Homo sapiens: one gene and its partners. The protein of the gene in region 1 purifies or fractionates together with the protein of each later gene. This does not show direct contact. Each region holds a gene or a part of one and is shown in the gene's direction. Other genes may lie near its edges.

Region 1 (5,731 bases):
AAGTTACTTGGCTCAAGGTTTCACAGCCAAGATTTGAACTCAAGAAGTCTGAATCATGCTTGAGTTCTGAACTCCTACCCTCATCTGATTGTATTCTTAAGTCTCACCTCAAACACCACCCCCTCCACAGAGCCCTCCCCAGACCCCCACCTGCCCTGGCAGGGTCAAAGGTGTCCTCCGGCTCTCACAGCCTCCAGGGCACACATCTGACATTGTTCTTGCTACACTGGTTATAATTATTGGTTTATATATACCATCTTCTGTGAACTCCTTAAGGTCAGGGGCTGAGCCTTTCATCTCTGTGTCCCTAGGTCCTGGCACCTAAGTAGATGCTCAATAAATGCCTGAGGAATGAATGACGGAATTGGCAATGGAGTCGTAAATGAGTTCCCTCCCTTGCCCTCTCCACCCCCATGACAGGCAGCTTCCCAGTTCTGCCCTTTCCTCAGTACTCTAGACATTTCCTTCATATGCAGTCCCTTCTCCTTCTCACAGGACCATCACAACAGACAACAGCTGTTGTTCAGGTTCCCTGGCCCCTTTGTTCTCTCCAACCTGCCCTGCCTGCTGTCCTCCCACTCCTACTTAAAACATGCAACAGCCCCTCTCTTCAAGCAGTGCTTCCGGAGCGGTCCCCCAGTCCACCAGCCACAGACTCACGCTGAGTGGGGTGCTTGTTACAACCACAGATTCCTGGGCCCTAGCTCACCCTGATGGCATCTCTGAGAATCCAAGTGCTGAACACAGTTGAGAGCCACTAGTCTCCAGAAGAACTTAACCCAGTTTTCAAGGCCTCCACAATCTGCCCCCAACCTCCTTTTCCATTCTTCCCACCCAGCCCTAAAGGATTCCTGTCTGCTGTCCCTTGTCCTCTGTGGAGCCTACTTGGTATTTTCCCACAGCCACATCCCTGCACGCTCTGCTCTCCCCTCCTGCCCAGAGCCCACCCCCAACCTCTGGCTCTCTCCTTTCCTCATATTATCTAAACCATGCCCATCTTCAAGGCACAGCTCAAATTCCACCTTCTCAAGAAGCGTCCCCTGCCCAGATCCGCGAAGCCCTCTTTCCCACCCACTTCTGAGGACTGACTACCTGTTTGCACAAAGTGGTGTCTGTCTGCAGATAACCCTTCACTTTCCTTGGTGTACCTATCTCTACATTTTGGTTGTGAGTACCTGGAGGGCAAAAACCTTATCCCAAAATCCTCCTGCTCACCACCCACCCCCACCCCATCCTATATGCCTAGTTCCTGGCTGAGTCCAAAGCTCAGTGTCCAGTTTGATTGACAGGCGAGAGGCTGTGCAGGACCAGATACGATGAGCCACACTCCAGACTAGCAGGAATTTTCCTCAGGGGCAACACGTCCTCTAAAAACCTTCACTGGCAAGAAACCAAGAAACTTGAAGTGAGAAGAGAAACAGGATGAGGAGGGGATAACTGTGGCAAAATAGACCACACTTCAAAGGCTGAGGTTCAAGTTCCAGCTCTGCCTCTCTGTGAGCTCTGCAAGGGGCCTAACCTCACTCTGGTTTTCACATTTTCCCATTTCTAACCAGGTAACAAGATGATCCTCTCAGAGGAGAGTTGCAAGGCTTACATAAAGCCAGATGTGTAGCCATGTCTAGAATGTACTCACTCACTTAACAAATACTCATGAAACATCTGTAATGTGCCAAGCACTGAGGGCAACACAGAAGGGAACAAAAGACTGGCTAAACAGTCTGTGAAAACCAGAAAACTGTCATCAACAACACAGCAAGAGTAAAGAGGGAGGTGTGGGCATGCACAGGACACAAGGAGAGGGCCTCTCACCTGCCTGTGGTCAGGAAGCCTGGAAGGATGTCCTCGCCGACTGCACAGCCATGTTCTGTTTGCAAGGATAGAGGGAGCAGCATGCCTAGTCGGGGTGGTGGGGAAAGTACAACACAGGGAAGTGTGAAATCAGTAGTTCTGAGAAGGAGGCCTTCTGGCTTGGGATGGCTGGAGGGCAGAATGACTGTGGGCGACCAGCCTGGAGAAGAAGGCCTGACTCAGGAGGGCCTGCATGCAGAGCAGAGTTAGTCCTCATCCTCAGGTCCACGGGAGGCCACAGAAGCATTTTAAGCTAGAATGAGGATGACAGATAGTAGTGAGGCAGGCTGAGATGCAGGAAGGCCAGCGAGATCCAGCAAGGAGGATGTGGCTTGTGTGGGGGCTGTTGTCGCCACGTGTTAGCCAACCATGTGCATGTGAAAGAGGCTGACTTACAAGAATCTGCTCCTGTAAGCCCAGAGAGGCCCAGGGACAACTTCCACTTTATTCTGGATGTTTTCACTTTTGGGACATCCTGTTCTGAGTCAAGATTCCTCCTTCTGAACATGGGACTTTCCAGAAGGACCACAGCTCCTCCCGTGCATCCACTCGGCCTGGGAGGTTCTGGATTTTGGCTGTCGAGGGAGTTTGCCTGCCTCTCCAGAGAAAGATGGTCATGAGGCCCCTGTGGAGTCTGCTTCTCTGGGAAGGTAAGTGGGGCAGGCAGATAGCCTGTCCTCGGAGAGCTGAAGGCCCCTCCCCAGCTGCCTATGCCAGACGTCTGGGCAGGGATCCCTCGACCTGGGTGAGAACCCAGAAGCTGAGGGTGGGTAGGAAAGACTAGAACAAGCTCTTGGGCAACATTTTAAGCTAGGCAGATACAAAGAGATGCAGGGTCCTGGGAGGGAGGAGGTGGCAGCTTGAGGGGTATTCTTATCTGTGAGACATGAGCTGTTTTGTGGCCCAGAGCAGTAAAAACGGAGCCAGTGGGTGATACTGCTGGTTTGGAGAGAAAGTCGGCTGTGAGAATGGTGAGGACCCGGCAGTGTTAGCATGCAGAAACTCTGCAGAGTTTGAGGAGAGTAGCAGAGGGCAGGGCAGAGCAGGGTTCCCCACAATCAGCAGAGTGTGTTTTCAACAGCCTGTGGGGGAGCTGAGGTCCCTCCCTACAGGCCTTTATAAGGGGAGGCAAGTACTAAGTAGGGATGAGAGAGGCTAAATGTGGCCCACGTGGACTTAGGGGTGGCCGACGGTGGTGTGATGTTGGGATGGCTGATACACGGGGTCTCCTCCACACCGGGCGATCCCTCTATCCATCTGATGCCTGAGTTCCCTTCCTTGGTCAACAAGCAGCCAACATGACATGGGTCAACACTGCCGGGCCATGGATGAGGGTTTATGGGGTGCAGCAAAGATTAAGATGATATTGTTTACATCAGAGGCTCATAGGGACTTTGGGTTGCTTTGTTTCATCTCCTTGCCTGAGTTCCTGGCCCTGAGAGCTCCAAAGCCTGCAGATTTCTTCAATATTTCTAAACATGTGCAGGAAATCACACCTTAACCTCAAAAAAGGCCTTGGTCTGTTTGGTGAGACAAAAATAATTTGCCTTTTTTTTTTTTCTTTGAGACGGAGTCTTGCTCTGTCACCCAGGCTGGAATGCAATGGTGCATCTCAGCTCACTGTAACCTCTGCCTCCTGGGTTCAAGCGATTCTCCTGTCTCAGCCTCCTGAGTAGCTGGGATTACAGGTCACTGCCACTAAACCCGGCTAATGTTTGTATTTTTAGTAGAGACAGGGTTTCATCATGTTGACCAGGCTGGTCTCAAACTCCTGACCTCAAGTGATCCGCCCTCCTCAGCCTCCCAAAGTGCTGGAATTACAGGCATGAGCCACCACACCCAGCCCAAAAATAATTTTTCAAATGGCCCTTAATGATCAAAGATCTGTGTGACTGACCTGGTACAGACCCCTTATTTTTCAGTGGTACTGAAGCCTGGGGCAGGGTGATGTGTGGAAGGGCACACAGCTGATCTGTGGCAGCACCAGGAGGAGCAGGTAGGAGCAGCTAGGTCTTGGCTGACATCCAGTGCAATTCTCTTTGTGTGTTACATTCCTGCTCTGCATTAACACTGAAGTCATCTCCAGTGTGAGAGGAGGTTGTTGGGCCTGGAGGACAGTGAGGCAGAGGGGGACCGGAATTATCATGGCCGACTGAGCAACCATCCAGATCATGTCTCATTGACCAAAACTTCATCACCTCTTATTCTTCCCTACACCCTGTGCCAGCGACAGGCATAGGGTCAGTCCTCAGCAGGGTAGGTCATTTATTCAATACCATTTACTAGGCTTCTCCCACAGTCTGTTCTTAAACAGTGGTGGGCACTGGAAGCAAACGATGGGGAGAAAGAGCTCACGGTCTAGTGGGAGATGCTGACTCATAAACAGGCAATAAGAATAGAGGGATAAGGGTAGTCAGCATGGTGGCCCCAGGCCACTGTGAGAACACAAGAGAGAATATGTAACCTCTCTTGGTTACATTACCTATGAGGGATAGGGGAGGTCGGAGGAGGCAGTGATGCTACAAGAGTGGGCAGAAATTAGTCAGCAAAGGAGTCAGGGGGGCACTTCAAGGAGAAGCGTCTCCCATACACGTCTGACTCAAATATAGTCCCCCAAAACAGCATCTTGCTTTCTCACCCCCTGTCTGTTTCTCCTCCTGTTCTGGATCACAGAGAATAACATCCAGTGGATCCCAAGGACCTGGGAGCCGTCCTCGACTCCTTTTTCTCCTTCACTCCCCAGAGCTAATCTATTACCAAATCCTACTGATTACACACCATCTTCGTGTTTCTCAATTCCTCCCACTTCTTCCCATCCCGGTTGCTCCCTTCCTCAATTCAAGTTGCCGTCACTTCTCCACTGGACTAACATGAACAGCCTAAGTCCTGCCCACCTCCAGTGCATTCTCCACATCCCTGCTGGAGTGATCTTTCTAACCATGCATCTAATCCTGTTACGCTCCTGCTTAAAACCTACCTGAGACGCCCCATTGCTCTACAGATAAAGCCCAAACTCCAGTATTGCTTTCAGGTCTCTGCATGATCTGACTCCTACCAACTCTGCAGTGTAATTTCCTACTCCTCACACAGAGAACTACTCTCAGTTCCCCTGGGCACCAACTCTCCCCCTCCAGGCCTTTGTCAGTACTGTGCCCTCTGCCGGTGACACTTCCCTATCCTGCTCCAGGCCGCCCTCGGCTTGGCCTGGCTGATTCCCATTCCTCTTCAAGGCTCAGCTTAACAATTTGTTTTCTGAGCCCATCAAGGCTGGGTGAGATCCCCTGTCACCCTACCTGTGTTCTCCCAGGGCATCTCATTTTTCCCTTCATGGTATTTAACAGAATTCATTTTTATTGATTTCTTGAATGTCTGGCTTCCTCTGTAAGTTCCATGAATGCAGAGACTGGGGTTATCTTCCATATGTTTTATCCCTGGTACCTAGCACAGTGCAACCTCAACTTGAGTGGAGGGAATGTCAGTGGAGGGGCCCCAATTCACCCTATAGCAGCTCAGATGCATGCAAAGAAGGATGAGGAGTGTGGGGCAGGCAGAGTGACCAGGGGCTCTGTTCTTTCAGCCCTACTTCCCATTACAGTTACTGGTGCCCAAGTGCTGAGCAAAGTCGGGGGCTCGGTGCTGCTGGTGGCAGCGCGTCCCCCTGGCTTCCAAGTCCGTGAGGCTATCTGGCGATCTCTCTGGCCTTCAGAAGAGCTCCTGGCCACGTTTTTCCGAGGCTCCCTGGAGACTCTGTACCATTCCCGCTTCCTGGGCCGAGCCCAGCTACACAGCAACCTCAGCCTGGAGCTCGGGCCGCTGGAGTCTGGAGACAGCGGCAACTTCTCCGTGTTGATGGTGGACACAAGGGGCCAGCCCTGGACCC
Region 2 (3,918 bases), on another chromosome or scaffold:
GGAATTTGGAATTTCAGAATTGTTCATCCCATTACTCTGGGAGCAGATTTCAGGAACAGCATCTCCTACCCCCAACCCTGGCCTTCAGCAATAGGCATCCCTAAGCTTCATTCCATTCTGGTGCCTTCTCATGGGGCCTTCTTTATATGCTGGGTAAACAGGAGTCCTCCAGGTTTCCCATAAGCACAGTGGATGGACATTGTTCTGGATTTTCACACTTAGACCCCTCTGGCATGGGCACTTCTCTGAGCCTGTGATCTCTCCCTCCACTACCTGCCTTAGACTTTCAGATTTTCCATTTCTTGCTGTGTGGACCATCTCTTTGTCCAAGGTTTCAGGAAGGCCTCCTCATAGCAGATGCATGCCATCACCAGGGGCTTTGCCAACATGTTAAATCCTGTGGCCATGATAATTAACTCTTCTTTATCCAACGGGGTTCCATCCTCACTCTGTTCAACCAGCACCAGCATCCACAGGGGTGGACCCACACCCTCTCCCACCTCCCGCAGTCCACGTGGGCTACTGCTGAAGATCCTCTGCCATCCAGGCCCTTCCTCCTCTCTTGCTAGAGAGGCCTGGCACCTTTCTAGCAAGGTCACGTGTTGACTGATGTGGGCAGAGGGGCAGTGGGACATGTCTGGGGACATGTGGTTTCTCAGCAGACAGAGACTTCCTCCTCCTCCTCCTCCTTGTCCTCATGCAAGGGGCGAGCACTCGCCTTAAACTTGTAGACACCACAGTTCTGGAGGGGGCACTCCTTCCTGGGCCAGCCCAGCCTGCCAGAGGCATCCTCTTATTGACACAGCGTGGAGGGGGGCTAACTAGGGGTCTTTTCCTCCCCACCCACCCCTCACCTGCCTTTCTCCACAGACCCTCACTCTCTTTGCTATGACATCACCGTCATCCCTAAGTTCAGACCTGGACCACGGTGGTGTGCGGTTCAAGGCCAGGTGGATGAAAAGACTTTTCTTCACTATGACTGTGGCAACAAGACAGTCACACCTGTCAGTCCCCTGGGGAAGAAACTAAATGTCACAACGGCCTGGAAAGCACAGAACCCAGTACTGAGAGAGGTGGTGGACATACTTACAGAGCAACTGCGTGACATTCAGCTGGAGAATTACACACCCAAGGGTAAGTTTCAGATGGCCCAGGACAGCAGGGAACAGATACAGTGGTAGGTTAGAGGCATTTATAGTTTTCATGTAAAAATACAAAAGGGTCCTGGGCACGGTGGCTCACGCCTGTAGTCCCAGCACTTTGTGAGGTAGAGGTGGGCCGATCACAAGGTCAGGAATTCGAGACCAGCCTGACCAACATGGTGAAACACTGTCTCTACCAAAAATGCAAAAATTAGCCAGGCATGGTGGCGCATGCCTGTAATCCCAGCAACTTGGGAGGCTGAGGCAGGAGGATCCCTTGAACCCGGCAGGCAGACGCTGCAGTGAGCCGAGGTGGTGCCACTGCACTCCAGCCTGGGCAACAGAGTGAGACTTTGTCTCAAAAAAAAAAAAAAAAAAAAAGCCAGGTGCAGTGGCTCAAGCCTGTAATCCCAGCATTTTGGGAGGCTGAGGCAGGCGGATCACGAGGTTAAGAGATCGAGACCATCCTGGTTAACACAGTGAAACCCTGTCTGTACTAAAAATACAAAAAATTAGCCGGGTATGGTGGCGGGCGCCTGTAGTCCCAGCTACTTAGGAGGCTGAGTGAGCCGAGATCGCGCCACTGCACTCCATCCAGCCTGGGTGACAGAGCGAGACCCTTTCTCAAAAAAAAAAAAAAAATACAAATGGGAAGGTCATCATACCCCTCAAGAGTCTAGAGGCAAGGCCAAGATGTAGCAGAGAGAGTAAGGCCAGCAAATTGTAAGGGGAACAGGATGGGGGTGCAAAATTTGTCAAGATCAGAGCTGATCTCTCTCTGATGGGGGCAGAACCCCTCACCCTGCAGGCAAGGATGTCTTGTGAGCAGAAAGCTGAAGGACACAGCAGTGGATCTTGGCAGTTCAGTTTCGATGGGCAGATCTTCCTCCTCTTTGACTCAGAGAAGAGAATGTGGACAACGGTTCATCCTGGAGCCAGAAAGATGAAAGAAAAGTGGGAGAATGACAAGGTTGTGGCCATGTCCTTCCATTACTTCTCAATGGGAGACTGTATAGGATGGCTTGAGGACTTCTTGATGGGCATGGACAGCACCCTGGAGCCAAGTGCAGGAGGTAACAGGAGAAAAAGAAACGGGGATCTCAAATGTGATCAGAAATGGTGACCTCAAGAAGTTAGTTCTTGAGTTCAGCTTCAATCATCCCAGTATACACATTCACGTTAAAATGACCTCCTCGTGGGGCGCTCCTCCTGGGGTTACTGGCATGCCTGTGCTCTCCCACCGTCCTCTTCCTTCTCCCTCCTGACTCCTATTCCTCACTGCACTTGCTCCTGCTCCCCGCCCTGTGGATTTCTCACCAGCCTTGAAACTGCAGGTGTCACTGTTTTCAGACCTTTTTCCTTAGTGTTTCCTCTTTTGAGAATCACTTTTCCTTTCCTTTCCCTGGTCTGGTTCTGGAAATCCATCAAAACCACTTCCAACGCCAGCCCAGAGATCCTCCCCTCCCCAACTCTGGGGCATCACCTCCTCTTCCCCCACAGCAGGAGGGTGGGGTGTGTTGTCACCTTGCTTCCCTCAGCAGCTGTGTGAGCTCCCTGAGGACAAGACTCACCCCGTCTCCCTTCCTAAGCCAGGACCTGTCATACTGGCTGCCCCACACCAGGGGGGAGAGGACAAAACTTTTGCCTTCCAGGATGACCTAGGGTGGCAGGAACTGAGGAGGTGTCTCCTCAGATTTGGGGCCTGGACAAGGGTTGTCACTTTTGTGTTTCCATTTCAGCACCACTCGCCATGTCCTCAGGCACAACCCAACTCAGGGCCACAGCCACCACCCTCATCCTTTGCTGCCTCCTCATCATCCTCCCCTGCTTCATCCTCCCTGGCATCTGAGGAGAGTCCTTTAGAGTGACAGGTACTGTGGGCAGAATTGGAAGTGGAGCAAGGAGCAGGTGGGTGAGGAGGCAGGATGGGGAAAGAGAATTCCCGGAGTCCCGCCCCTCCCCGTGGCTGGGACCTTCTCATCCTAACATGAGACAGGTGAATGAGACCTTGTGTTGCCTGTTGGCAATGTTGGCAATGACCTGGGCAGCTCAGCCCTGAGTTCTGATGGATTCTCACCTTCAGAGTCCAGAGGGAAAGGGAGGGGCCCATACCAAGGCTCAGGGTCTGTTGAGCTTGAGAAGGTTTAGCAAGTTCAGGCCTGATTCAGAGCAGGTTCCTATTCAGGAAGGGTGTGTGGCCTGCAGGCAGCAGGAATTCAGACATGGGCAGTCCTCTTAATTGGGTTAGGTGCATCATGGTAGCTTTACATGAGGTGTGACAGGGGAAGGGGGATTCCATCTCTGAGGCTAAGAGAGATCTGGGTGTAATCCCAGGAGGAGGGGGCTGGGAGAACCTTGGTACACCTAATTGAAAAGGAGGGAGTGCAGGGCTGCCTTCCCACAGAAAGTGGCTTGGGTTCCAGGAATTAAGGTGGAAGGTGAAGAGTAGAGGCTGCTCAAGAGAAGGATTTTTAAAAAGTCAGTCCCATGGACATGTGCAGCTCGAGTCTGGGCCCTGAGGCAGCTCCCCTGCCATCATCCTCCTGCACACCCCAGATCCTGAGCCCACTGATGGCCCTGCCTGGAGCAGAGTGGACTCAGAGGAAGGGGGGTCTGAGCTGCTGCTGGGGTTCCACAGGCACCACTGGGCTGGACAAGGAATTGATAAGGTGGAACAGGGACAGTCACCTTCAGAGCAATGGGTGCTGCTCCCAGTGTGAGGAGAGGCTCAAGAAGAAGGGGAAAGAAGGATGTTTGCCTGCAGGCCCACCAAAGG
Region 3 (5,057 bases), on another chromosome or scaffold:
AACGGAGCGAGTTTCGACAGAGTCTTTTTAAGCAGGCTAGCGTAACTCCGTATTTCAGCCATAAAATTTATGTAGGCAAGTATCAGAAATTTGGCATCTTGAATTCTTTTTTTTTTTTTTTTTTGAGATGGAGTCTCTCTCTGTCACCAGACTAGAGTGCAGTGGCGCGATCTCAGCTCACTGCAACCTCCGACTCCCTGGTTTAAGCGATTCTTCTGCCTCAGCCTTCTGAGTAGCTGGGATTTCAGGCACGCGCCGCCACGCCCAGCTAATTTTTGTATTTTTAGTAGAGACGGGGTTTCACCATGTTGGCCAGGATGGTCTCGATCTCCTGACCTCGTGATCCCCCCGCCTGGCCTCCCAAAGTGCTGGGATTACAGGCGTGAGCCAGCGTGCCCGGCGGACACCTTGAATTCTTAAACCATTTGAGTCTTGAAAGATCTAATTTCCAGCATAGTTGTTTATTGGAAGGTAACAGTAGAACAGACGTTGACGGTTACTTGAATGAGTACCAATTACAGGCCTCTGGCACTCAGAATTGTCACTCACAGTTTTATAAGATGAGGTTTTTGAAAATTCAGACTTTTTTTTTTTTTTTTTTTCTTTTTTGAGACGGAGTCTCGCTTTGTCACCCAGGCTAGAGTGCAGTGGTGCGATCTGGGCTCACTGCAGCCTCCACCTCCCGGGTTCAAGCAGTTCTCTGCCTCAGCCTCCTGAGTAGCTGGGATTACAGGCATGCACCACCCTGCCCGGCTATGAAAATTCTGACATTCTTTTATGTCAGTGAACACCTAACTTAGTATCTAGTTGACTCAAGATGAGAGTTCTCAATGCTATAATTTGAATGTCTTTGAAAATTCCACTAGTATTATACAAGCTTTTTCTTTTTCTATACTCAGAGAGTTACTAATGCAATAAGCTTTGTCAAATGACGTCGTAGTGTAGTCCAAATTCATTGTATAAGGACTTATCACAGTACATGGATTTGTAATCATGTGTCCTCAGAGCATCCTCGGAACTTAGTAAGGTGTGTTTTCCAGTTTTACAGATAAATAAGCCTAAGCTGAGAGAATTAGGTAATTACTTAGGTCAGTAACTTAAATACATTATGAATCACGAGTTATTTTGATATCAAGACCTCTTTCTAGCAATGCTGCCATATTGTACTCATCATGTTCATTTCAGTATGGTTCTCATCTATATTGAACTGTAGATTCTGTGTTAGCATTTATTACCTCTGCTCCAGTATTGATTCTTTTATGTTAGGTTTGGCAGTAAGGGCCTTAGAAATTCCTCACAGTGAATTTTTAAGATCTGGAAGAGACTAGTTTGAAATATTCATTTTAATATGTACCACAGAGGTAATGGATTCTAATTATCTGGTTATTGAAGTTTGTCAAAAGAAAAATTGTACTTCCACTGAAGAAAAAAATAGCTAGTCTTTGCACTCTGAATAACTTTGTTTCATTAGGGTTTTTTGGTCAATTTTTCTTTAAGAGACAGGGTCTTACTCTGTTGCCCACACTCAAGGGATCCTCCTGCCTGAGCCCTCCACAATAGCTGGGACTACAGGTTTGCACCACCATGCCCAGCTAATTTTTTCAAAAACTTTTTGTGGAGATGGGGTCTTGCTGTGTTGCCCAAGCTGGTCTTGAACTCCTGGCCTCAAGCAATCTTCCTGTCTCAGCCTCCCAAAGTGTTGGGATTACAGGCATGTGCCACTGTGCCCAGCCTGTCAGTTTTAAATATGGAAAAATTATAACTTATAAAATTAGTGTATATTTAGATATTTCTTTCCGTACACATTTTGTCAGTGTGACTACTGGTAACAAATGTCAAAACTCTTGTGAGATAATTTCTAGTTCTTTGGTTTGTTTGCTGCTGATTTGGAAAGTGATGTCAGATCTTAATTTATATGTGGCTGTTGCTCATGTTTTGCTTACCTCTGCTGCAAAGGGCAGGGTCCATGTGACTGCCTGGCCACAATCGTTTTCTATGTGTTTAGCCCTTAAGAGTGCTGAGAATGTTTGTTGAGTAACAGCTTCCCTCCAGAGTGGTCAGTTCTCACATCACATGAGGTAGTTAATGAAGCCTCTTACTTTCCAGCTTCTGTAAGAAAAGTAGTCAGATATCATGGTCCAAGGAATGGCCTTATGCATACCTGGAGTCCTTATACCTATCCCATTTTAATTATATTGGCTTTAAAATCTTCAAGGTAAAAAGAGGCAATTTGAACCCCTTCTTTGTTGCCCTGAAAAATTCCAAGGAAAATTTCTTTGTCACAAGCTGAGCTAGGCATAATGAAAGCACTCTGGAAAAAGGAGGTAGAGAGTACTAAGAGATATCCAGCAATTATTGCTAAGTGGTAGGATTGGCATCGGGCACGTTATGTATATTTTTTATCTTTTCCTCTTAATAGCTAAATATGAGATATTCCCCCTATTTTAAAGATGAAGACTTTGAAATGCAGGGTAAGTGGTGATAGTAGGATATGAAGGCAAGATTGGGCTGGGCACAGTGGCTCATGCCTGTAATCCCAGCACTTTGGGAGACTGAGGTGGGTAGGTCACCGAGACCAGCCTGGCCAACAAGATGAAACCCTGTCTGTACTAAAAACAAAAATTAGCCAGGTGTGGTGGTGGGTGCCTGTAATCCCAGCTACTTGGGAGGCTGAGGCAGGAGAATCGCTTGAATCCAGGAGGTGGAGGTTGCAGTGAGCCAAGGTCACGCCCTTGCACTCCAGCCTGGGTGACAGAGTGAAACTCCGTATCAAAAAACAAAACAAAACAAAAATTAGCCAGGTGTGGTGGCACATGCCTATAATCCCAGCTACTTGGGAAGCTGAGACAGGAGAATCGCTTGAACCTGGGAGGTGAAGATAGTGGTAAGCCAAGCTCACGCCACTGCACTGCAGCCTGAGCGACTGAGCGAGACCTTGTCGCAAAAAAAAAAAAAAAAATTGGGAGGCCAAGGCGGGCAGATCACGAGGTCAGGAGATCGAGACCATTCTAGCTAACACGGTGAAACCCCGTCTCTACTAAAAATACAAAAAATTAGCCAGGTGCAGTGGCGGGCGCCTGTAGTCCCAGGTACTCGGGAGGCTGAGGCAGGAGAATGGCCTGAACCCGGGAGGCAGAGCTTGCAGTGAGCCAAGATCGCACCACTGCACTCCAGCCTGGGCGACAGAGCGAGACTCTGTCTCAAAAAAAAAAAAAAAGTCTTTCCTGGAATTCTCCAACACTTGAGCGCTTATCTTCAGTATAATTGCGTTATATTACTTAGTCAATTCAGTGCTTATTGATTTGAGATAACTGTTTGCTACTTGTTTGTAGGAGACGCACATTGATTGGGAAAGGGGGAGTGAGTGAGGTTTCTCTTTCAACTGAAGACCCTACCATAAGGTCAGGTGTATGTTAGATTTTCCTCTGCTGCCTTTTCAGTGCTGTGTTCATATGGTGTTCCTTTTCTTTTTTTCTTTTTCGTTTTGAGACAGAGTATCACTCTGTTGCCCAGGCTGGAGTGCAATGGCGTAATCTCAGCTCACCACAACCTCCGCCTCCGGGGTTCAAGCGATTCTCCTGCCTCAGCCTTCCTTGTAGCTGGGACCACAGGCGCGTGCCATCATGCCTGGCTAATTTTTGTATTTTTAGCGTAGATGGGGTTTCTCCACGTTGGTCTGGCTGGTCTCGAACTCTTGCCCTCGTGATCTGCCCACCTTGGCCTCCCAAACCAAAGTGCCTGGATTACAGGCGTGAGCCACCACGCCTGGCCTGGTGTTCCTTTTCTTTTCATCTTTACTTAACAGCTTTCCCCAAGGACACAGAAAAAAATAATAGAAAGTAATACTGTTTTCTTTTGGGAAAGAGGGTAGTATTGAACATGTATTTTTGAAGCAGTTAGCATGTGGAAGTAAAAGGTACTTGTCAGTGATGGCAGTCACTTAGTAACCTAGTTGTTGTAGTTAGGATTTTTGTTGGTTGTAGTTGATGAAAACCCACTTGAAATTAGCTTAAGCCAAAAGAGATAATTTACTGGACTCCAAAGAAAGGTGCAGGAAGGGCAGGGGTATAATGTAGCTTGGTTTATGACCGTATAGAGCCTGTCAGTCCGACTTAATCAGACTCTCCCTCTCTTTTTTTGCCTTTTCAGGCTTGTCTGCTTCACTCCTCCTTTCTGCAGACCTATATTTCCACCTGGCTAGCCTCTGAATGTCACATTAATTAGACTTTCTTCATATTGTCTGCTCCTAAGTTTGAAAATCTGGAGAAGGGATTCTTTAGGTATCCAGACGACAAGGTAATACAACAATGTGGGCCTGGTATGGTAGCTCACACCTGTAATCCTAGCACTTTGAGAGGCCGAGGCAGGTGGACTGCTTGAGCCCGGGAGTTCAAGACCAGCCTAGGCAACATAGTGAAAACCGGTCTCTACCAAAAGAAAAAAAAAAATAGCTGAGCATGGTGGCACATGTCTGTGGTTCCAGCTACTTGAGAGGCTGAGATAGGAGGATCACTTGAGCCCAGGAGGTTGTGGCTGCAGTGAGCCGTTATCATGCCACTGCATTCCAGCCTCTGGGTGACAGAATGAGACCCCATCTCAAAAAAAACAGCAAGGAAATCATAAGGAAGAGAAAATATAGTTCTATACTATAGTTATCAATACCATAAGTTTATGTCAGCTGTTTACAAAACGAATCATCTGTCAGAAATGATGGGCAACCACAGCTGTAGACCTCAATCTAACGTAACCCATCAAGCAATTAAAAAAGAATGTGGGAAGTCCCACAGAATCATATGGATTGCCTAGGAAGTACACAGAGGTGGGACTGCTTTATTGTGAATTTCTTTGAATTACCAGAGAAACATGTTTATGGACTTACTACCCTTTTCTTTTTGAGACAGTATCTTCCTCTGTCCCACAGACTAGAGTGCAGTGGCGTAATCACGGCTCACCGTAGCCTCAACCTCCTGAGCTTCTGATCCTCCTACCAGTCCCTCCTGTAGCTGGGACTACAGGTGTGCACCACTACACCCAGCTAATTTTTCTATTTTTTGTAG
Region 4 (5,057 bases), on another chromosome or scaffold:
TTTTTAATAGTGACAGGGTTTTGCAATGTTGGCCAGGCTGGTCTCAAATTCCTGACCTCAAGTGATCCACCCACCTCCACCTCCACCTCCCAAAGTGCTGGGATTACAGGCGTGAACCACCGCGCCCAGCCAGGTGTCACATTTTTAATTTCCGAGGTTTTTCTTTTGTTTTCTTACTGATGTTGTCTTTTAGCATACTGTTGTTGGTTTGTTTTTTTTTTTATAGACAGACTTTTTTCTCTTAAGTGTAATTTTGAAGTTTTCTTTTGTTGCATTAGTTCTGTTTTCTTCAGGTTCCTTATTGCTATTTGTTTTAGCTCTCTTTAATAGTCAAAGTTTTCTTCAGAAGGCAGGTGTCTACTCACATTTTCAAGTAAGGTGCAAAAGAAATAATTGGAAATGTATTGCCTAGTGGGACTAGTCTACTATCTTTTGCCCTGCATGTATGTTCTTGACAGACTAACATTCTAGAAATAGGGTAGAGCTGTGGGCAAGGGTTAAATTGTTCCTTTTGTAGACTTTTGGTTAACTCCTGTGTCTAGCTTAAGGCCAAAACCTTACCCATTACTGTAATTTAAATCCTTAATTCCTGAGACTTTCCAGAAATACACCACTTGGTTCTTACCTTGCTGAGTGAGAGGGAGAAAGAACTACCACTGATGCATTAAGAAAGTAATTATCTATAGTCTAATTGGAAATTTGCTGTCTTGCTATTTCATCTGAGTAGAATTAAGTATAAAATGAATTAAAGGCCTAATTTTTGCTTGGGTCGCTCAGATAATAAGACTGCAGGACGTTAAGCTTTCAAGATTCATATAAATAATTTTAGAATTATTTTGTTAATAAAAATATATCAATACCTATGAAAAGGAAAAAATAAAAATATACATATAAAGTTAGATATATATGTTTGGATGCTATATTGATTGCCAAGTTTCGTTAAAAAAAATTCCATTCTTAATTTACTAGCTTTCAGAAATAAAATGATTCTTTTAATTTTTACTGTAAATTTTGAATTTATGTTAAAATCCAAACTAAATATTTTATAAATAATATCTTTTAATTGAAAACATCCCAGTGATAATGCTTACTGCTTTGGCAATTATGAGCCTCCATTTGTTAGAAACACCATCCGAATGTCTTGGTGTCCTTGACAAAGGAACTATATAGAAGGGCTATACTAGCCATTGCTTGAACATAATAAACACGTTTTCTCTCGACATATTTCAGATTTGTCTTGTTTCTTGAGACTATTCTGCATTCATTCTGAACTCTTTTTTAGACCAAAGAGGTCTAAATACATGATGGATGAAAAGATAGGAAAGAGAAGGCAATCAGTCAGTTCTGTTAAGTTTTAAGTTTTTCATTGAAAATATTTTTGTGTGGTAGAAATACAGAATTGTCCTTTTCCATTACAACTTGTCTGATATTTGTAAATGCTTGTTTCTTTTAGGAATCACAGTGCATTGATAACAAGTGTAGTCCCTGGGGATTATGATGGAGATTCTCAAATGGATGTCCTTCTGACATATCTTCCCAAAAATTATGCCAAGAGTGAATTAGGAGCTGTTATCTTCTGGGGACAAAATCAAACATTAGGTGAATTTGTTTTAAAAATTTTTAATATTTATCATTGAATATGAAGGTAAATGTAACAAAATATTGTTCTGAAATCAGTTCAAAAATACTGTTCTTGGGTGTCAATAATTGTAAAACCTTTTTTCAAAGTTTATTTCCTGATTTTTCTTTTTCAACCCTGAACTGGGCAGGGATCACTTCTACTGACAAACTTCATTCTTACTAGCTTAAAGAGGACAGAGATTTATTAAAGGATTTTAGTGGCTCACAGAATCATTGAGATGGCTAAAGAATAAACTCTAGGTTGAGCTTTCAGGAGCAATCCCAATATCATCAAAAAAGCTACTGCCTCTTTCCCCTATCAGAAGTGGCTAGTTACACAACTGCTGCCAGAATGATGCTGTGCCTGCAGTGATTCTCACTAGCAAAATGAATGCTGCACCTGGTCTCTTGATACTCCCAAATTCAGTGAGCAGACACAGATAGAAATAGCAGAGAAACAGCCTTTACCTCATTCATGCCTTTAAGACTCACAGTGTATCTGATTGGCAAGGCTTAACTTTTATTCAGCATCTCAGATGCCACAATATCTGGAAAATGCTATTTTTGGTTTCTAGTCTCCTTAGCACAGGAAAGCACAAAAAAGTTGAAGTATGGTTCGAGAGTCAGTCTACCATACCTAGTCACAAATCATCAAGCCTTATCTGAAAAGCCAATTAGTTATACCTAAATAGGCAACTTTGTTCATGGAGCCAAATTTCAGTCATGTTTTCTGCACCATTTGGGAATGTAAACAGTAATCGCGATACATTATATTCATTAAGTCAATAAATATTTACAGAGGGAGTACCATGCACAAAGCTTGTATATAAGCATGTACATTTTAGAACCAGGAAGTTTTGCATATGTGGCCTTCTTTACACCAAAACCTTGTTAATTGTCAACCTCTCTAGCACTAAATTGTGTAAAGACAAAGACTCAGCTAGCAAATATTTAGATGCATACCTCAAAAGGAGGTTATTGTAATGCTAGTCTTCACTGTAGAATGTATTCTCCCAATATTTTGTCTTTGCAAGCTTGATGTTCATTTGAACTAGATTTATAGTATCTCATTAATGATAATAGTTGGAATAAATCAGAGATAAATCTAGAAAAGAGTAGAAGAATATTTTTTCCTAAGCATAGATATCAAAAGTAATATAAAATGCCTGCTAATTCATATATATATATATCTTTTTTGCAGATCCTAACAATATGACCATACTCAATAGGACTTTTCAAGATGAGCCACTAATTATGGAGTAAGTATGGGCTTGCTTCCTTTGAAACGATTTTAAACTTAAACATAAAATAAAATCTTCACATAGGAAACTACTTTGCTTAGTAATAAAAATACTAAATTCACTCAGAGGCCTGTACCTTTGATTATATTGTATTTATTTGCCATCAGATAGGACAAAGAAAAATGAAATTTATTATTTTGGAAAGTAGAAGAGATTTGTGTTTTTATTTCAGTCGCTTCAAATGTGTCCATTATGGATCTATGCTGTCATTACTGAAAGAATTAAGATACCTGTTTTTGAGTAAAACTGTTATATTTGATATTTAGGATACAGTTTCCTCTAGAAATTTAGAAAGATTCCTATATTAAGGAGAAATTTTTGTTCTTTTTATAATATAACTCCTGCTTTGTGTTATCATTTATATTCTCACTGTAGACTCATGTACCAGCATAATTGATTTAAATAATTGATGTAAATTTGGATTTGCAAATTTCTGACAGCGTATTTTGGTAGAGGTCGAGATCATTCCCGGGACTAGAGCAAAGTTTGGCCACATTCTTGTTTCCAGTACTGTCTTTCTTACAGTTATTAAAATCATACCCATACAGCAGTGTGTCAGTGGCCATTAGAAGTCTGAACTGTAAATCCATGGATTAATCTTCTTAACGGTGCCCCGCTAGATTTCTTTCATAGTTGTGTATTTTTTCATTGTTGTTAAAATATTCAATGGCCAGTATGAAGTTTTATACCAACTAGGATTATTTTTCTAGGTTATTTCTCCTAAGCCCATCTAAGTAAACAAGTTGGCTTAGGATTCTGAAGTAAGTTTCTAGGAATTAGTGCTGTATCCTTATCATTCAAGGGTAGTCTAGATAATGCAAAGATTACAGAGATACCCAAAATCTCACAAAACGAATTTATTTCTTGCTCTTACTATATGTCCAGTGTGGGTCAACAACAGGCTCTGCTCTGTGCTGTTGCTTAGAGTCAGGCCATCAGAGAGCCCACTGTCTTTGTAGCTAGTCCATCTGAATCACAATGCCTTCTCATTGCCATGGCAAGCCTGGAGAGGGCTGGAGGGGCTGGTAACAGAAATTATACACTTTGGCCTAAAAGTGACACATGTCACTTGTGCTGACATTTGACTTAATACTTATCACTAGATACTGGCGAGCATTGTAATGTCTACCACACTTCCCAAAAGTTACTGCTTCTTTTAAAGCTAAATTAGAAGTAAGAATTTAAAGAAATAGCTGCTTATTGTTTTAATTTTTTTTCAGTTTCAATGGTGATCTAATTCCTGATATTTTTGGTATCACAAATGAATCCAACCAGCCACAGATACTATTAGGAGGGTGAGTAAATATGGTTATAACTATGTAATTAATCGTATATATTGCTTCTACTTTAACCATTGGAGAAAAAATAGCTCATTGGAATCCTTGTTTTTAAAGATTTTTAAGTGGGCATTTGGTTAATATATATAAGCTTTCTCAAATAGTTTGGATTTGGCCTGCACCTGCTTTCCAAGGGCCAGCTTACTCCTTTTATCTCTTTGAAAAATTAGAGATTGAAACTTTACGGGTCCCCATTTAAATATTGGTTCATTAAATGTTTTTGAAATGGATAGATTTCACGTAAATAGGGAGGATACCTGCAGTCTTGAGTGGATCCTCCCTATCTTAGTACCTTAGTCATGTTAGCTGCTAGACTTTAATTGATAAGATTTGTTTCTTTCTGTCATTTGTTCAGTGAGCAGTCAATAACGGTCTAGTAATATAAGCACTCCTCTAAGCTCTGGAAACTTGTCAGTGAATACATTGTCCTTCACCAGTATGTGTGCTAGGCCTCTCTTACTATCTAAGTATGCAATTCTTAGGGAAAAGTGCCTGGAATCTTGCAATTCCAAGATATCCATTGTAATTACTCTGGATTTAAATAGAACTGGTCTCGTAGCACAAGAATTCCTGATAGCAAGATACTTTTCATAAGATACCTTCAACCCGGTTAATTTTTTTTCTGTATCTGATAAGGTAAAGTTTAGTTCAAGAGTACAGAACACATTTATTTACTTTTTTGTCTTTCTGAAAGTACAAAGGACCACCCTTATCAATCTGTCTTTCCCAGCTACTTGGAACTCTAGTGACTTTTCTCTTTGTGTTTTATAGAAATAGTTTGTTTTTATGATTCATTTTT
Region 5 (4,700 bases), on another chromosome or scaffold:
CATATAATCTAGTGCCATTTAGAGTAGAACTCAGGAAATAGAGCTGCTGTCCTCTATCTCTGGCAGAGCTTTATTTTATTATAATAGTTAAATTTTCCTTATGATCCCCTCAAATCATTGGAAAAAATAAAGTTTTCTCATCTTTTTGGTGAAATAGGGAATAGGTGGTACATTTCAGTAAGTCGTATCAAAATGGAGAAATAATGTAAATACTCTGGTTGTAATATATGCTTCATTCAGTGGAACACCTCCTTCCCCCAAAGTGGTAATTAAATGAAGCTTAGCCTAAGTAAACTTATAATCACCTGTGTTTCAGGGGGTACATTAGGACTTACAAAAATAAATACGTGCATATATATAGTTTATGCATGTATACAAATAGGCTTGCACATGTAGTGACATTTCTAATCTCATTAATAGTATGAAATTCTTAAGTATACATCAATAGCAGCAACTTAAGGCTACGAAAGAAAAACCATATAGCAAGCACAGATACAAATGACAGCATTGCAAAGCCTTATAGGTGTCCATGGGATTATTGGAGGAATCATCAATTCCTCCAATATTAATAATATGTTTCTAATTCTGCAAAAATATACTTGGGTGCTTAGCCACAGTGGTGTCCTTATCAACAGAAGAGAAAAATGCTCTTCTCTCTTTTAGGTGAGCACGACTCACCAGCACAACTTTTATGTTATATGGGATGTGCATACATGGAACAATGATAATCTTTAAACTCTGCAGTCTGTAAATTCTGGTGAAAGCTCAATGAAGGGTGAGATAGGCAAGGCTCCTATATGGTGAAGATAGATTGAGAAAAGGAAAACTGCACAACTTATACAGTATGGCACATCATGAGCTCCTCAAGTAGCTAATTAAATTTGTTTCACTAGAATCAAATAATTGGAACCAAGATGATTCCAAAAGAAGTGGCAGCCAGGGGTAACCAAGCTATCTATCTATCCAGAGTTGTGAATTGGTGAAAACATTCTCTGTTCTTCAAATTCAATATCACTGTTTCTTCTAAATGCACCTTACAATATTAAATAAATGTCCTTTCTAAGTAAAATTGTTCTCACACTGTAAGACACCTGAACCATTTTTGCTTAAGGTGAAGGAATTTGACATTGAAAATGGCACTACAAAATGGCAAACAGTCAGAAGACAAAAGCGGGAGTGGATCAAGTTTGCCGCAGCCTGTCGAGAAGGAGAGGACAACTCGAAGAGGAACCCCATTGCCAAAGTAAGTGATGAAGCAATCTGATGACAAATGCTTTTGCAGAGCAGGGAAGCTTTCAAATATCTCCAAGATTTGCAGGCTTCACTGCTCCACAGTTATTTAAGAAGACAGAATGTGGTCATTTGCTCCAGTTGCTGAGCCACTGATTTGAATATCATGTGCAGGGAGGCTGACGTGGGGCAGGCAGTCAATGGCAAGTGATTCTAGAAGAAAGGGCTGGATCTCCAGCACAACTGGGCTTTGTTCATCCATTTGTGTACTGCTCATTATTGCCTGTCAATGTCATAGGAAACGTATTCACATAGTGACAGTCTGAAGCCTGGCCCTCCAGAAAGTCAAGCCAAGTTTACTGCACTAGATGAATTAACTCCAGGAAAGTAAGGATAGTATCAAAAGTTCCCACCAGATCTCTACATCCAGAAAATAAGAGAGTCTTATAAGACTTTCACAAATAATGCCTACTGAAAAGGAAGGAGAGTTAAAGAATGTGTAATAAATTGATCCAGGAAGGATGGGATCCACATTAATAGCTTCATTCACTCTTTCTGGACATCTTGATCCTGAACAGTAAAGTGATCTGCAGAATTCCCTCCTTCCAGCTTTATATTAAAAACATAGTAAGCATCAGCAGTGGTGTTACAGATACAACCTCAGCTCAAGAAAACAGATGTATTCTCTCTCAGATGTTTTCAAATTGGAGGGACGCTTTTAAATTATTATTTCCATTCAACTCAGTAATTGCTTTATGTTATTCCACTTATATTGCATATTCTTTTCTTTTTCTCTGCATTTTGGGAGGTTCTTGAGTTTTCTTCTATGTAAAAAGGGCCTTTGGATTAGAGTTAAGCTAACCAAAGTTCTATTTCCAGCAGTCTTTATTTGACTGTGAATGTGTGGGTAAAAAATCTTACTATTTTACTGAATGCTCTTATCGTTAGTATATAGGTGAGATTTCAAAATTGTTTCAGTTTAAATTTATCAGCAATAGGTAATAAAGCTACTAAAGCAAAATCTGTGTGGCAGAATATTTGCCATAAAATCTATTTGGCAGAAAAGTGATGCAGTATGTTTACATTTATAAAATTATTACAAATATCTCTAACCATTATAGTTTTCTGATATTCTCAACTTATCTACCATTTTGACTAAATCTCAGACTCCAGCTTAGGTAGGATACTTATTAATATGACACAAGTTATTTTTAAAAAATAGTAAATGTTGTAATTTCTTTTGTGAAGCTATTTCTGCGTATGCTAAAAAATCAGAGAATTGAACAATGTGTTATTAACAACAAACCTAGCACCAAGTGTGTATGTTATACACATTACCTCATGTAATTCCCACAACAAATCTGTGTGATATTATCCCCACTGTAAGCTGATCTGGGCAAAGTTAAGTAAATTTTCCAGGGTCACACAGGACTAAGTCATGGTGTCAGGTTTCAATCCAAAGCCCATTTGGTAAAGAAACCCACTCCCTTCTTATTCCACTACACTCTTAAGCATTATCTGCTCTAAACTGGATCACAATCCTAGCTATTTTTCTTATAGATTCGATCAGACTGCGAATCGAACCAGAAGATAACATACCGGATTTCTGGAGTAGGGATTGATCGACCACCATATGGGGTATTCACCATTAATCCTCGCACTGGGGAAATTAACATCACTTCAGTGGTAGACAGAGAAATAACTCCACTTTTCTTGGTAAGTCATAGCCATATGTTTTGATTTGTTCATATTAGTTTTCTTCCCTTTTTCAAAAAATATTATCTTAAGATAATGGATTACTTTTGATAAAACATGGCAGACTGAACCCAAATAGAAGACTTGAAGGAATGGAAAGAGTGTGAAAATAAAAGTTTATAGTTCAGGATTCTCTGGTATGTTGCATGTACATGTAGTCAAGTGTCCTGATCATATTTAAATTATTTGACTGTACTACAGTCTGAATTCACTGGAAAAAATTGTTTCTTTGCCTATTTTCTGATATATTTTCAAGCATGTTACTAAAATTCCTTTGGTGGAAAAAGATGGCTTTTTTCCAATTTTCCACAGATCTATTGCCGGGCTCTGAATTCACGGGGTGAAGATTTAGAAAGGCCTCTTGAGCTTAGAGTCAAAGTTATGGACATAAATGATAACGCTCCAGTCTTTTCGCAAAGTGTATACACAGCCAGCATTGAAGAAAATAGTGATGCCAGTAAGTAGAATGACATTCCTTCTCTACGTCACAGCATATCTACTTCTCTTGGTCAAAAGCTTTAGAGGACTGACATACAGGAAATGTAAAGGACAGAAAAAGCCACACTTGTATTTTGAATAAACCCCACATATTTTAATTTATAACTGAGCTAGAAAAAGAAATCATGTCTAAAATGATAAAATAAAATATCTTCTTACTTGCGGAAGGTCCCTACAGGGATTTAGCAGGTGCTTAGCACCTTGCTTAAAGATTGCTACTGGGCTCATGAAGAACTAAATCCAAGCGAGCAAACTGAGGAATAAACCAGGAATGTTTAAGAAGGCTCTGTTCTGGTCTCTTACTCAAAATGTTTGGCTGACCCACACCAGGTAGAGCGTGATGGTGGAAGCACACGCAATTGTACCCATCAGATCAATCACTAAGGGTAATCATTGATCTTCACAGACTACATAGCAAACTACATTCTATTCTCTCATTTTCTTTCATTTCTTTCCATTCCACTTAATTCCATTTCCAGTTCTAATACCCTCTGTCTTTCCTTTATATTAATTCTCCTGAACTTCTTTCCTTCCTACTCTTATGCTTTTCTTATATGGCTACTTTCCTATCTCTCCTCTCCCTTTGCCTTCTGACCTTGATTTTACATACAGCACATGAATATCAGTTTGTTCCCCAAACCCCTGTTGTCCCTTTCCCTTTCAAATCTATGTCTGCCCATATACCTCTAAACAAATTTGGGGGGAAATAATAGGAAAAATAAATTTCAGGAAAAAAGGCAGATAAACACAAAATTTTTTTTTGAACTAGGATAGTCCTCCCATAGAGAGGCAAAGAGATTTTGCCTAGGAGAGCCAACACAAAGAGAGACTCCGAAGTCCATCTTTGCTTCCTCATCAACACACCTCAAAACAACACTGGTGAAGGAAGAGAAGGTGAAACCCACAACCAAGTCTCCCTGCCTAGGAAGCAAAAGAACATCAGGGACCTGACAATTCTGAAAAGTCTGTCCTGTAGATTGACATCCTTGGGGATTTGCCTAAGATACCTGTTCTTTCTACCTATGAGTAATTAGGAACTTCTTATATTGCTATGGACAAGTCTTCTTTTCAATAATTATAAATTTGTGACTGTTTGGTAAAATGCTATCTTCCAATGCAACCAAGAGTAATTATCTGCTTTCTGGAAAAGTGGCAATTAAGAATATAGGTGTTCAATACATAATTATAATGTTGCATTTAATTAAACTATAATTTTC

The links.
Region 2: the proteins of SLAMF8 (region 1) and ULBP2 purify together in Homo sapiens (affinity purification with mass spectrometry; one large-scale study listed by BioGRID and IntAct). This does not show direct contact.
Region 3: the proteins of SLAMF8 (region 1) and NRBF2 purify together in Homo sapiens (co-immunoprecipitation; one large-scale study listed by IntAct). This does not show direct contact.
Region 4: the proteins of SLAMF8 (region 1) and ITFG1 purify together in Homo sapiens (affinity purification with mass spectrometry; one large-scale study listed by BioGRID and IntAct). This does not show direct contact.
Region 5: the proteins of SLAMF8 (region 1) and DSG4 purify together in Homo sapiens (co-immunoprecipitation; one large-scale study listed by IntAct). This does not show direct contact.

Annotation. Positions count from the first base shown.
Region 1 is NC_000001.11:159,824,438-159,830,168, forward strand, and holds the start of SLAMF8 (SLAM family member 8 isoform 1 precursor), read left to right. Parts: upstream 1-2,435; 5' UTR 2,436-2,461; coding exon 2,462-2,501; intron 2,502-5,428; coding exon 5,429-5,731. UniProt on the Homo sapiens protein: May play a role in B-lineage commitment and/or modulation of signaling through the B-cell receptor.
Region 2 is NC_000006.12:149,944,439-149,948,356, forward strand, and holds part of ULBP2 (UL16-binding protein 2 preproprotein), read left to right. Parts: intron 1-870; coding exon 871-1,134; intron 1,135-1,933; coding exon 1,934-2,215; intron 2,216-2,881; coding exon 2,882-2,991; 3' UTR 2,992-3,013; exon of another isoform or gene 3,014-3,018; intron 3,019-3,918. UniProt on the Homo sapiens protein: Binds and activates the KLRK1/NKG2D receptor, mediating natural killer cell cytotoxicity.
Region 3 is NC_000010.11:63,135,542-63,140,598, forward strand, and holds part of NRBF2 (nuclear receptor-binding factor 2), read left to right. Parts: intron 1-5,057. UniProt on the Homo sapiens protein: May modulate transcriptional activation by target nuclear receptors. Can act as transcriptional activator (in vitro). Involved in starvation-induced autophagy probably by its association with PI3K complex I (PI3KC3-C1).
Region 4 is NC_000016.10:47,450,555-47,455,611, reverse strand, and holds part of ITFG1 (T-cell immunomodulatory protein isoform 1 precursor), read left to right. Parts: intron 1-1,453; coding exon 1,454-1,599; intron 1,600-2,821; coding exon 2,822-2,879; intron 2,880-4,141; coding exon 4,142-4,216; intron 4,217-5,057. UniProt on the Homo sapiens protein: Modulator of T-cell function. Has a protective effect in graft versus host disease model.
Region 5 is NC_000018.10:31,385,577-31,390,276, forward strand, and holds part of DSG4 (desmoglein-4 isoform 2 preproprotein), read left to right. Parts: intron 1-1,111; coding exon 1,112-1,243; intron 1,244-2,790; coding exon 2,791-2,946; intron 2,947-3,297; coding exon 3,298-3,442; intron 3,443-4,700.